Regions from separate parts of the Homo sapiens genome. Here region 2 is linked to region 1. Evidence: fine-mapped expression QTL. Tissue or cell type: whole blood. Region 1 holds a variant in brackets; the other region holds the start of a gene. All regions are shown on one strand. Distances are between the middles of the regions.

Region 1 (2,500 bases):
AGGAGTTTGTGACCAGCCTGGGCAACATGGCAAAATTCCGTCTCTACTAAAAATACAAAAATCAGCCGGGCGCAGTGGCTTATGCCTGTAATCCCAGCACTTTGGGAGGCCGAGGCGAGGGGATCACAAGGTCAGGAGATTGAGACCATCCTGGCCAAATACAAAAAATTAGCTAGGTATGGTGGCACACGCCTGTAGTCCCAGCTACTATGGAGGCTGAGGCAGGGGAATCACTTGAACCCGGGAGACAGAGGTTGCAGTGAGCCGAGATCGCACCATTGCACTCCAGCCTAGTGACAGAGCAAGATTCAATCTCAAAAAAAAAAAAAAAAAAAAAAAAACAGCCGATGTGGTAGCATGCACCTGCAGTCCCGCTACTTGGGAGGTTCAGGTGGGAGGAAGGCTTGAGCCCAGGAGGCAGAGGTTGCAAAGAGCCAAGATCACACCATTGTACTCCATCCTGGGCGGCAGACCCAGACCCTGTCAAAAAAAAAAAAAAGAAGAAAGAAATATTGAATATTGACTGCTTTTATAATGTTGTGGTAAGAAAAGTAGAAAAAAGCTTCAAAAGTCATAAAATCCCACACCTCCTCTGACTATTACAGTATGAAATGCAAGGCTCTTCTCAAAGTGGTCTCAATTTTACTTCTCCAGTTCTAGGTAGGGAAACGAACATCTATTGAGAAGCTACAGTGTGTCAGCCCTGTGGTGAGTCCTCTCTACACTTCATCTGATGTAAGAGCACCCTCATTCCAATCCAAAGATCATGCTCTTTCTCCCACATGATGCTGTTCTCTGGCTTCCTCACCCATACTTCATTCCCTCTTCCTCTGATTCAATCATCTTTGTCTCTGAATACTCTACATTCTCCTAAAACTCTCTGCCTACGCAAGTTCTTTTTTTTTTTTTTTTTTTTTTTGGAGATGGAGTCTTGCTCTGTCGCCCAGGCTGGAGTG[C/T]AGTGCTGTGATCTGGGCTCACTGCAACCTCCGCCTCCCAGGTTCAAGCGATTCTCGTGACTTAGCCTCCGAAGTATTATAGCTGGGACTATAAGCACGCACCACCACGCCCAGCTAATTTTTGTAGTATTAGTAGAGACGAGGTCTTGCCATGTTGGTCAGGCTGGTCCCAAACTCCTGACCTCAAGTGATCCGCCCGCCTCGGCCTCACAAAGTGCTGGGATTACAGGTGTGAGCCACCGCGACAGGCCTACCTATGCAACTTCTATTCGCCTTTCAAACCCCAAAGTCTTCTCTTTGATGACCCCCTTCCCAATTCATCCAGGTACAGCTGGCATATCCCATCTCTTGCCCACGGCATCCACACACATCTTTGCTATCAATGCAATGAAACTTGTTTCCCCTAGACTAGGAGTTTCTCAGGACAGTGGCCATCACTTATTCACTTCTCATTCTCAGATTCAGCACAGAGCTTTGCACACCCCAGGTACTCAATAAATATCAGGAGATAATCACATTCCGGGAAGCCTTCCTAAACTACCCCATCCCTGAATCTACTCTTGCTCCTTAGTTCTATGGCTGGCACAGCTGACACCATAAAACTTCAACCCTATTTTCATGTTGCCATGGTCGTTTTATGTGTTCTAGTCTCGTTTACCCAATTGGACTATAAGAAGCTTCTGAGCAGAAACCATATCACACCTGCCCGTGTCCCTACACTGTGCCGAGCACAAATATTCTAAACATACACCTGCTGTTAGACTGGTGGGTAAGTCCAAGGAGGCAAGCTAGCTGGCGATACAGAATGATCTGAAACCTAGGCAAAACTCCCTGACGCTCTCTGACTGTCCTCCTGTCTTCTTTAATTTCTCTTTCTGTGTCTCTTGTTTCTACTCTGAGGAGATAGGGGCATGATCTTCACTCTACCCTCTTAACACTTAAGAGGGCATATACTGTAACGCAAGACAATGAATGAACTGTGGTATTCAAGAAAAAAAGGGTCCTAAACGCCTAAGAACTCATAATTTGGCCAAAAAGATAAGACTGATACGTGAAGACAACGACCGAAACAAAGTACCCGATGAGGGAGACCAGGACAGAGAGACACCTCCGCGGTCAGGCGAAAAGGAAGTCTCCCCTAAGCAGTGGGGCCCGCACCACGCCTCGAAGGACAGGTAGAATTTGGACAGAAGGAAGGAGACCGTCCCGTTGGGCAAAACCTCTCCACTCGCAGTCCCGCAGGCTTCCCGGAATCCTTCACGCTAAGGCGTGGCGGCGACCGAGTCTCAGCCGCAGCGAAGCCCCTAGACTAGAAAGCAGGGAGGTTCCAGTCGGGGTGAGGGGACCGGACCAGGGCAGACCAGCGTGGCCAAGCGGCAAGAATACTCGCCGAGGTGGCTCGGGAAGAGCTTGGCCTCCTGCAGCCCCTGCAGAGCACATACCCCAGCTTACCGTCTGTCGGCTCCAGGTCTCTTCAGCTCTTCTCCCACCTCAGACCATCTCCGGAGAGGCGCTTGAGGGACGGTCAAGGAAAGCCAATCGTC
Region 2 (2,744 bases), 46 kb before region 1:
TTCATACACTCTTCCCAGTTTGGAATGACCTTTTTCCTCTGTTAGAGTCCCAACCAATTTTTTTTTTTTTTTTTTTTTTTTTTTTTTTTTTCCTGAGACAGGGTCTCTCGCTCTGTTGCCCAGGCTGGAGTGCAGTAGTACGATCTCAGCTCACAGCAACCTCTACCTCCTGGGCTCAAGCCATCCTCCTGCTTCAGCCTCCTGAGTAGCTAGGACTAAAGTGGTGTGCCACCACACCTGGCTAATTTTTGGCTTTGGTTTTTGTAGAGACGGGGTTTTCACCATTGTTGCCCAGGGTGGTCTCGAACTCCTGGGCTCAAGTGATCCGCCCGCCTTGCCCTCCCAAAGTGCGGGGACTGCAGGCGCGAGCCACCACTCGGGCCCCAACCAATCTTTTAAGATCCTGCTCAAAAGTCTCCGTCCCTGGGAAGTCTTTTCTGAGGCCTCTGAACTCACTTAAATGGAATGTGCCCCTATTTGGCACCTGGTCTCCTCCACTGAGATCGGGGCTTCTTGGGCAGGGTACGCTTAAGGAGAACTGGCTGCATTGGGCCACCTGCCTTAGCAGGGCCAACCAGCGGAGGAGCTGGCTGGGTGCTGGCCCGTCCCAGGGGCTGCGGAAGGGTTAAGAGAGGGCTCCAGAAGCCTGAGAAAGCCTAGGTTCCGGTTTAACCTCGGATCTAGGGCCACTGAGTCAAGACGGGACTTGCGGGGCCGAGGGCAGTTCTCCGGTGATCACCCAGGTCTCCAGGGCAATGAGAAAAGGAGGGGGCACTGCAGGAAACGTACAGGGGCGGTGTTCCTACAGGTCCAGAGCTCCTCCACCAAACTGGGTCCCAAACAGCTCTCCTACTTTCGGGTGGCCTCGGGAACGCAGGGGGAGACTTGCCAGAACGCCCGCCATTCAGCGCCCAGCTCCGTCCCTCTCGTTCTCGGCCGGGATCTCCCCGCGGCCCTTGCACAGCCTCCTCCCCCGGCCCGCCCTGCCCCCCGCTCAGCGCGGCCTCCCAGCCAGGGCGCAGGGGTTATCAAGCCCGCTAGGCCTTTACCCGCGGCTGCCCAGTTCCGGGAGCCGTCGGCCGCGGCCCAGAGGGGTCGGCTGGGCGGACGCCGGCGTCTCCCGCTAGCTCCCAGAGTCCCCGGCTCCTCGGCGTGGCGCTTCCTGCCCACCTCCGCCCGCCTGCGCGGCCCTGGCACCTGGCAGCGGGCGCGAAAGAGGACGAGCCCAGGCACTCGGGCCTGCGGGGTCCTGGGACGAGGGGGTCAGCGAGAGGGGCCCGGTGCTCCGGAGCAGGCGCAGGGCTGGAACCCCGGCGCCACCCGTCCCGCCATCGTCCCCCCTCCCTGCCTCCATCCCCGCGGGCACTGCCGCTAGTACTGCCCTCTGCAGGTTCCCAAGCGCCAGTGACACCCAGTGACCTCACTAACCACCTCCCAGGCTGGGCTGCTTGTTAGGCCCATTTTACAGATGAAGAAACTGATGCTCAGAAGGGTGAAATGACTTGTGCAGGTTGATTCAGTTAGGAAGTGGATGAGCCAGAACAACATCCCGGGCCTGAGTCTTCCTACCTTACCCCTGGGCCTCCCTGAGGCGCGGTGTCCAGGGGATTCTTCCCTCTGTCCCTCTCCGCCTCCCCAGCCTACCTTCAGGCAGAGACCTGAGCCTAAGGCTTCCTTGGGTTCTGCCTTATGTATCCGGTCCTCTTCAGAGCCCAGACCTATGTGTGTGGCTGCTGGTAACCTTGGTTAAGAAAGAAGGAAGAATGGGGGCTGAAGGACAACTTGCACCCCAACCTGCTCTTCGGGTCTGACACCCATTCATGGCCTAGCCCTGGGGCTTCCCAGTTCCCAAAGCCCCCACCCTTATCCCTACACTTCCACACACTTCCACACCCTGGGCTCACGTAGCCCAGAAGGAGGAGCCACCCACCACCCACAGCCAGGGCACGCCTTCGTATGCAAGCATGAGTGTACGATGTTCACACAACAGAGCTGTGCACTAGGGCACCCACAGAGAGGCTCTCCAGGGCAGGGCTGGGAAGAGGACTTACTGAAAACAATGTGGATGTTTCATTTAGACATTTGTTCATTCGTTGTACTGTGGTATTGGGTAGCACTGAGCACCTCACCCCCACAAGCCAGGTCCAGCACTAGGCCCTGGGCTGCCAACCACAGCAAGGCAGGCACCTCACTTTAATGGAATCAACTACCACATTTACAAATGATGTACTTCAAGGCCGAGGCAGGAGGATCACTTGAGACCAGGAGTTTGAGACCAGCCTGGGTGACATAGTGAGACCCTGTCTCTATTTAAAATGAAAATAGAAAATAAAAATATAAAAAACAGACAAACAAATGATGTACTTCAGTGGCAGAGGCAAGGCATTAGGAGAGTCTGGAAAAGGGAGTGCAGAGGAGGTAACATTTGTACTGGATCTGAAAAAATAAATCAGAGGACCAGCCGCGGTGGCTCACACCTGTAATCTCAGCACTTTGGAAGGCTGGGGGTGAGGGCAGATCTCCTGAGGCCAGGAGTTTGGGACCAGCTCAAACTCGTCACCATGGCCAACATGGTGAAACCCCCGTCTCTACTAAAAATAACAAAAATTGGCCAGGCATGGTGGCTCATGCCTGTAATCCTAGCACTTTGGGAGGCCAAGGCAGGCGGATTGCCTGAGCTCAGAAGTTCACGACCAACCTAGGCAACGTGGTGAAACCTCATCTCTACTAAAAATACAAAAATT

The links. PIP is the estimated chance that this variant, and not a neighbour inherited with it, causes the effect.
Region 2: NLRX1 starts here. The variant in region 1 is fine-mapped to the expression of NLRX1 in whole blood (TOPMed, PIP 0.98).

Annotation. Positions count from the first base shown.
Region 1 is chr11:119,121,548-119,124,047 of GRCh38, reverse strand. HINFP (histone H4 transcription factor) reads right to left here and starts at 2,468. Exons shown (of 10, transcript NM_198971.3): 1 at 2,409-2,468. RefSeq lists a silencer at 2,455-2,500. The variant C/T (reference allele first, on the strand shown) is at 957.
Region 2 is chr11:119,167,348-119,170,091 of GRCh38, reverse strand. It overlaps NLRX1 (NLR family member X1), which reads right to left and starts at 1,367. Exons shown (of 10, transcript NM_001282144.2): 1 at 790-1,367. RefSeq lists enhancers at 1-571, 572-1,277 and a silencer at 849-1,458.